Linked DNA regions of Homo sapiens: region 1 is linked to region 2. The links come from fine-mapping of genetic effects on gene expression. A gene starts in region 2. The other region holds a variant in brackets. All regions are shown on one strand. Distances are from middle to middle.

What was found. PIP is the estimated chance that this variant, and not a neighbour inherited with it, causes the effect.
Region 1: its variant is the best candidate, but not a certain one, in a credible set for the expression of CCNT2-AS1 in neural progenitor cells (Aygun 2021, PIP 0.58).

The regions. Positions count from the first base shown.
Region 1 is chr2:134,844,631-134,849,151 of GRCh38, forward strand. ACMSD (aminocarboxymuconate semialdehyde decarboxylase) reads left to right here. Exons shown (of 10, transcript NM_138326.3): 2 at 603-647. Among named protein-coding and RNA genes, the nearest start is that of ACMSD, 8.3 kb to the left of the region's middle. The variant C/T (reference allele first, on the strand shown) is at 2,767.
Region 2 is chr2:134,916,138-134,920,137 of GRCh38, forward strand. It overlaps CCNT2-AS1 (CCNT2 antisense RNA 1), which reads right to left and starts at 2,469. Exons shown (of 5, transcript NR_036549.1): 1 at 2,426-2,469. CCNT2 (cyclin T2) reads left to right here and starts at 2,685. Exons shown (of 9, transcript NM_058241.3): 1 at 2,685-2,875; 2 at 3,673-3,754. The coding sequence starts at 2,718. RefSeq lists enhancers at 1,595-1,644, 1,654-2,327, 2,405-2,564, 2,715-2,984, 3,195-3,284 and a silencer at 2,325-2,394.

The DNA.
Region 1 (4,521 bases), 71 kb before region 2:
CCTACTAGGATGGCTTGATCAAAGCAGGTTCCAGGAGAAAGCCCTCAGCCAGTGAAATGCAGGCGCTGGCTGATGGAGGTGGGCTGGCATGCACAGAAGTGTGAAAGCAAAGGGATATGAGCGGGACACCAACAGCATCTGCTACATACATGATTTCCTGTTTTAAAATGTTTGAGTCCCTATCCACTAAACTGATATCACAATCTACTCATGGATTGCAACCCACAGTTTGAAAAGCAGTGTATTTCCTAAAGAGTGGTCCTTAGGAGCTATGTACTCCTGGTAGCCTGTGAAATGATTTTAGGTGGCACATGAACAATATTTTTTCATGTTAATCTTTATTTTAAAAATTCAAGCTGCATTAGGGGAAAAGATAAAACCAGCACTGCTGAGATAACAGTATTTTCTTCTTGTATAAATATATTGAAGGAAAAATGTAAGTGAATTTAATTGTAAATACTAAATAGGCGATACATGGGTATGGGGGAAATGGGAAGGCAATGCTTGAAAGGTGGAGCTCAGGATCTTCTGCACTTAGCATGCCCCTTGATTGCAGCCTGGTCTTTGCTCTTTGACTCTAACTGTGCTTCTCCCCACTGCAGAGGTTTGGCTACGGAGGCTGGGTGCAGCTCCAACACCACAGCAAGGTGAGTTTCTTCCAAAGTATGAACATCAGTAGCACTCAGGGAGAGCTGAGCCATGGGATACCTCACTGCAGGCTGGGCCTCCAGGGAACCCCACTCTTCTGCCCATGTATTAGCTTTGTTGTAGACAAGGGAACAGCACTGAGATTTCTCAGAATAATTGGGAAAAATGGAGGTGACTTCAAAGAGTAGTATTTAGGAAGATAAAATTGGAATTTGAGAACACATTAAAAGGTCTCTCTCTCTCTCTCTCTCTCTCTCTCTCTCTCTCTCTCTCTCTCCCCTCTCCCCACCCCCACCAACCAGTTTTAGCATTTATTGCTCTGCCTGGAGGAAGTGACCTAGTGCTCTCTACAGGTTATTACAGTATATTAAAGCTGACCAAATAAATGGGACAGTTAGGTTTGAGCACAAGCTGGAAAAATTGAACACTGGAGACAAAGGGGAGAAGACAGTGTTATTAAGGGTTGAGTTTGGTAAGAGGAAAAAGCAAAAAGAAGAAGGCTGTGGGCAAAGCCCTCTAGAAATAACGAGCCCCAAGAGTGAGCTGGGAGTCTAGATCTGCCCAGGGCATGGGTCTGACTTCATTTTCAGAGGCATCATATGTCCTCTCCGAGTTCAGAGGGAATATTCTTGAGCTTCCAGCTGGCATGCAGACATGACTAATGCAGGCTCTGGAGGACTTGTGGTCTGGAAATCTAGTTAATGTGCAGAGTTAACCCAATGCAGCATGGAAAGGTTAGGACTCCCTTTACATCAGGTGCTAAGGGGCAGAGATTTGGGCACCAAGGATCAGAGAAGGCCTTCTGGAGGAAATGATGCCCATCCCACATCTTAAAGCAGGCAGGGAGGCTTGCCCAGGGAATAAGGAAACCATGTTCTAGGAAAAGAAGAAAGGGAACAAAGGCATGAAATATTAAACATATGTAAGCTCAGAATTCAAGCACTCAGCTACCAGCATTTCTCAAACTGTGGTCCCACAACCAGTTTCACCATCACCTGGGAACTTGGGAGAAATGCAAATTTTCAGGCCCTACCCCAGTCCTACCAAATCAGAACTCTAGAGGTAGGGCAAGCAACCTGTTTTAACAAGCCTCCTGGTGATTCTGATGCACTGTCAAGGGTTTTTTAATTATTAATTTTTTTAAGGACAAAGTCTCGCTCTATTGCCCAGCTGGAGTGCAGTGATGCAATCACAGCTCACTTGCAGCCTCCAACTCTCAGGTTTAAGTGATCCTCCCACCTCAGCTTCCCAAGTAGCTGAGACTACAGGTACACACCACCATGCCCAGATCATTATTTTATTTTATTTTTTAGACAGGGGGTCTCACTATGTTGTCCAGGCTGACCTCGAACTCCTGGCCTCAAGTGGTCCTCCCACTTCAGCCTCCCAAAGTAGCACATTCAAGTTTGAGAACCACTGGCTCTCACACATTCATTCACTGACTCACTACTTTTTATTGAAACTTGTTTTGTGTCAGGCCCACCAACCTAGACACTGAGAATATGCTGGTGAACAAGATAGACATAGTCCCTGCTCTGATAGTGCTCAGATTCCAGGGGTCACAAGTCAACATGATCAATTCAGAGAATGGAATATAAAGCAGCGATGTGATAGAGAGCAAGAGGCTGGCTGGTCTGTGACCTGGCAAAGGCTTCGAGGATGAGAAGGGAACACTTTTCCAAGTGGGGGAACAGCAGTTGCAAAGGCCACCAAGTGGTAAAGAGTTGATGTGTTCAAGGAACAGAAAGGAGGGCAATGTGGCTGAAATGCAGTGAAAGGGGGAGATAGTAGGAAATGGGCTGGCAAGGTAGGCAGAGGCCCAGCCACATGGGGACTTGCAGGGCACGCTAAAGAGTCTGGATTGCATTCTCAAAACAATGCAAATTCTTCGGAGGGTCTTAATGGCTTTAAAAGACCACTTTGGTTGCTCTGTGGAGAACACATAGAGGCAGACAAGAGTAGGGAGAGTGAAAAAGAGGCAAAAAGATGGAGAGGAAGCCAGAAACCTCATCAGACAGGGCCATGAAGGATTTAGGGGTTTAGGCCCCAAAATGAGCTTAGGTCTTTGAACTTGATCCTGAAGACAGTGGGGAACCACTAAAGAGTTTTTTGGGGATA[C/T]AGATAGATAGATAGATAGATAGATAGATAGATAGATAGATAGATAGATAGATATAGATAGAGATAGAGATAGATATATATACTTTAAGTTCTGGGATCCATGTGCAGAATGTGCAGATTTGTTACATAGGTATACAAGTGCCATGGTGGTTCACTGCACCCATCAACTCGTCATCTACATTAGGTATTTCTCCTAATGCTATCCGTCCCCTAGACCCCCATCCCCCGACAGGCCATGGTGTGTGATGTTTCCCTCCCTGTGTCCATGTGTTCTCATTGTTCAACTCCCACTTATGAGTGAGAACATGCAGTGTTTGGTTTTCTGTTCCTGTGTTAGTTGCTGGGAATGATGGTTTCCAGCTTCATCCATGTCCCTGCAAAGGACATGAACTCATCCTTTTTTATGGCTGTATAGTATTCCATGGTATATATATGCCACATTTTCTTTTCTTCTTTTTCTTTTTTTTTTTTTGAGATGGAGTTTCGCTCTTGTCACACAGGCTGGAGTGCAATGGCACAATCCTGGCTCACCGCAACCTCTGCCTCCCGGGTTCAAGTGATTCTCCTGCCTCAGGCTCCTGAGTAGCTGGAATTACAGGCATGTGCCACCATGCCCAGCTAATTTTGTATTTTTAGTAGAGACAGGGTTTCTCCATGTTGGTCAGGCAGGTCTTGAACTCCCAACCTCAGGTGATCTGCTCGCCTTGGCCTTCCAAAGTGCTGGGATTACAGGCGTGAGCCATTGCACCCAGCCAGCCACATTTTCTTTATCCAGTCTATCATCGATGGGCATTTGGGTTGGTTCCAAGTCTTTGCTATTGTGAATAGTGCTGCAGTAAACATACGTGTGCATGTGTCTTTATAGTAGAATGATTTATAATCCTTTGGGTATATACCCAGTGATGAGATTGCTGGGTCAAATGGTATTTCTGGTTCTAGATCCTTGAGGAATCGCCACACTGTCTTCTACAATGGTTGAACTAACTTACACCCCCACCAACAGTATAAAAGCATTCCTATTTCTCCACATCCTCTCCAGCATCTGTTGTTTCCTGACTTTTTAATGATAGCCATTCTAACTGGCATGAGATGGTATCTCATTGTGGTTTTGATTTGCATTTCTCTAATGACCAGTGATGATGAGCTTTTTTGCATGTTTGTTGGGCACATAAATGTCTTCTTTTGAGAAGTGTCTGTTCATATCCTTCGCCCACTTTTTGATGGGGTTGTTTTTTTTCTTGTAAATTTGTTTAAGTTCCTTATAGATTCTGGATATTAGCCCTTTGTCAGATGGATAGATTGCAAAAGCTTCCTCCCATTCTGTGGGTTGCTGTTCACTCTGATGATAGTTTATTTTGCTATGCAGAAGCTCTTTAGCATTTGTCAATTTTGGCTTTTGTTGCCATTGCTTCCGGTGTTTTAGTCATGAAGTCTTTGCCCATGCCTATGTCCTGAATGGTACTGCTTAGGTTTTCAAGAATTTTAAACATCACTGTCTCTGAGGCAGCCCATCCTCACCTTCTTGTGTGTCCACTAAGTGCCAATTCAAACACTGTGCTTCACTTCTCCCATTCAAAATGCTAGTTCCTAGACCAGGATCTGATGCTCTAAGCTGGCCTCAAGTCTCTCCGAGGGAAAACATGATATAAATGGAGCTGACGGCAAAGCAGCTAGGAAGCCCCAGCTGCAGGGACAGGCAGCTGTGATTTTTTTTTTTCTTTCTTACTCCATGTCCCTGTCTTCAGTTTGTCCTTC
Region 2 (4,000 bases):
CTCTATCACCCAGGCTGGAGTGCAGTGGAGTGATCTCGGCTCACTGCAACCTCTGCCTCCTGGGTCCAAGCAATTCTCGTGTCCCAGCCTCCCAAGAAGCTGGGATTACAGGCATGCACTACCGCACCCAGCTAATTTTTGTATTTTTAGTAGAGACAAGGTTTCCCCATGTTGGCCAGGCTGGTATTGAACTCCTGGCCTCAAGCAATCTCCCACCTTGGCCTCCCAAAGTGCTGGGAGTATAGGTGTGAACCACTGCGCCCTGCCTAGATCCATATCTAAGTACAGGTTGAGTATCCCTAAATCTGAGAATCAGAAACACTCCAAAACCCAAAACTTCAAGCCCCCACATGACATTCAAAGGAAATGTTCATTGGCGCATTTCAGATTTAGAATTTTTGGATTAGGATGCTCAATGGCTAAGTTTATAATTCAAATATTTCAAAACCTAAAAAAACCTGAAATCCAAAACACATCTGGTCTCAAGCATTTCAGATACGTGATACTCAACCTGTATTACTTTGGGAGACGGTACTATTGTAAATGGCATTTTTAAATTATAAATTCCAATTGTTCATTGCTGGTGTATAGGAAAACTGACTTTTGTATTCAACCTTATATCCTAAAATTTTACAGAAGAAGTTTTATGTCTTCCTTCCCAATATGTATATACTTTTAATTTACTTTTCTTGTTAGCTAGAACACCCAGTACCACGTTGAAAAGACTGGTGAGAGGGGACATGCTTGCCTTGTGTCAGACTTTAGGTGGAAAGAATGTAGTTTCTCACAACAGAAACAATCTATTGTTAGCTGCAGAATTTTTGTAGATGCTCTTTATCAAGTTGAGGAAGTTCTCCTTTATTCCCAGTTTGCTGAGTTTTTATCATGAATGGATGTTGAGGATGGGCACTTCTTTTATTTGTGTGTGTGTGTGACAGGATCTCACTCTGTCACCCAGGCTGGGGTGCAACCTCACCTCTCAGGTTGAAGCGATACTCCCAAGGAGCTAGGACTACAGACGCCACCACATCCAGCTAATTTTTTAAAAAACTTTTGTAGAGGTGGGGTCTCATTATGTTGCCCAGGCTGGTCTAGAACACTTTGGCCTCCCAAAGTGCTGGGATTACAGCCGGGAAACACTGCACCTGGCCAAGGGTTTGCACTTTTAAAATGTTGCTTTAAATCAATCTATTCCAGAAATTGTAAGCAACATAAAACGTAAAGCAAGGGAAGTGAGTATGAAATAGCAACTGTTACAAAAACTGCCTACTATAATCAATATTCTTGTGCAATGCAGTATGCTGAGCGTGGGAGCCCCATAACAATCACTTGCCTCCATGGTCTTTGGCAAATAGATATTACTTTATTTTTTATTTTCGAGACAAGGTCTTGCACTATCGCCCAAGCTGGGGTGCAGCAGCGAGATCTAGCTCACCGCAGCCTCCACCTCCTGGGCTCAAGCCATCCTCCCACTTCAGCCTCGGGAGTAGCTGGGACTACAGGCGCGCCACCAAACCTGGCTAATTTTTGTATTTTTGGTAGAGACGGGGTATCGCCATGTTGCCCTTGCCCTCGAACTCCTGACCTCAAGTGATCGGCCCACTGGACCTCCCCAAGTGCTGAGATTACAGGCGTGAGCCACCGTGCCCGGCCTCCAAATAGTTAAGACTTTAAACTTAGAAACCCTATTCACAACACAAACTCCGAGTGAAGCTCAGTGGCATTTTCTTACAGGAAGAAATACAGGAGTTAATCAACAGGTATGTGGGATGTTCCCACATCAAATCCTAAAGATAAAATTTTAACTCAGTTCCTCCTGCACTATCTGATTCTCCCCAACCTTGTCTCGCAGAAACCACAGCGCAGCCTGAAAACACGCCCCGTCTAGATTCAACACCTCATTTAGAAATTCAATTTCTCGTTGCTAGTTGGATAGCGTTTGCCAAGTAATTTGAAAAAATAAAAATAAACCAAGTGGTCTGGGATTTAAACAAGATAATGTAGGGTGAAAAAAGCACTCAGGTGCGGACAGCCATGGAGCGTGACTTCCTGTGCACTCTTTCCCCGCCAGCTCAACGCCAGAGCCGCGCGCTAGGCGGAGACTGTTGGTGGCGGAGGCCGGAGTCGCACGCCTACGAGACTGCGCGGACCCGCCCAAAAGGAAAATGGAAGTAGTGGCGTGAGGCTGCGACAGTGAAGGTTATTTTTCTCTTTTTAAAGGGCCGCTAGACCTCCCGTCTAAAGGAAGCGCCCGACGGGCCTCCGAAGTACACGCCCAGGCCCCCACAGCGCAGCCGCCCGACCGCCTCTCTTCACACCGGCCAGAGTCCACCCTCTCCCACTTTCCCCTCCCCTCCCCTCCCCGCCCCTTCCCTCCCCACCCCTTCGCCCCGCCAACCCTAGACCCGGCATGCGCTGCGCCGACCTTTTCCTTCCGAGCCGACCTCTCCACCTTCGGCGCCTCCCAATGACAAGCGGCGCGGAGCATTGTGGTCCCGTGCGCAAGAGCGAGGCCGAGGGCAGAAAAAGAAAGCAAAAGACTAGGGCGAGTCGGTAGAGCGGGCCCCGCGCATGCGCAAGGGCGGAGGCGGTGGTGAAAAAGGGTGGTGCGTGGTCTACGGCGAGCGGAGTGGGGCGGGGTCGCGCGCCTTGGCGGGGAGTCCGCGAGCCAGGAGGGGCGGGGGGTGAATGAAGGAGCGGGCGGAGGAGGAAGTGTCATGGCGTCGGGCCGTGGAGCTTCTTCTCGCTGGTTCTTTACTCGGGAACAGCTGGAGAACACGCCGAGCCGCCGCTGCGGAGTGGAGGCGGATAAAGAGCTCTCGTGCCGCCAGCAGGCGGCCAACCTCATCCAGGAGATGGGACAGCGTCTCAATGTGTATCCTTTTCTGTTCGCCGCCGCTCACGCCCTGTTTCCCTTGCCCGGTCGCCGGGCCTGGTGCCCCGCGAACATGGCGCCGCCGGCCTCGGCCTTCGCTGGGCCTCGGCGCCGCGGTCAGGGAAGTAATGTTCCGGCTCGGGCAGTCGCGAGGGGTCAGCAGAGGAAGGGAGGAGGAGATAGGACCCCAGGAATGCGGGCCAGGAGCCTGCGTTGTGTAATCTGTTTGGGGCAGCGCGTGGTGGTGGCGGCGGGGGTTGGGAGTGTGGCTCAGGCGAAAGAGGAATTTTAGGGATTATTGCAGAAAAGGGGCGGCTCCCTGGACTTGTCCCTGACCCCGAAGGGTTTGAGAGGTAGGAGGGTTAGCGATGCTGAAAGGCCTAAGTGTTTGCCGCAGCCTTTCCCGGCTCTCGTCGCCGGCTTGATGGCGGCTCTCTTCTACCTTGGGAGCGTACTGGAGTTCTTTATGTTCTTGGCGTGGTTTTGTATGGGTGTGTGCGCGCGCGTTTCAACTGTTTCATTTTGAGTTTAGTTAGTCGTAGCCATTGATAAATAGTTCCAGGGCCCTCAGCGCTGTTAGAGTGAAAAGATCAGCAGTTCTTATTCCCATTTATTTGGCGTCAAGCCTATTCTCTTCCTGCCGCCCCACCCCCCGCGGGCATTTATTTCTTTATTTCCAGTTTGGGGTTTGGATTTGAATGGGAGGTATTGGAAAAGAACCTGGGAATTTTCCATCAAAATTGTTCTGGGAATGAGATCTTGCTTTTGTCAGATATTTCCTAAATATTACGTTCCAGCTCTCAGCTTACAATAAACACTGCGATTGTTTATATGCACAGGTTTTATATGCACCATTCTTTCACCAAATTCAACAAAAATGTAAGTACTAGTTGTCTGTTTTTACTGTCCGCAAATTTGAGGGTAAATCGATACGCAGAAAAAAAGTTGGTCATTGCGTTGTTGGATTTAGTGTTCTGAATTAACGGTAAACGTATATCACGTGATAAATATTTTGCTTCAGATGCGGTGTTTTTGTGTTTTTAAAATTTATGATGAATTAAACTGCAAGGCACTGTTAAGCTCTGCCAGGCCTTTTAAGCTAAAAAAGAAAAACATTTATTTCTT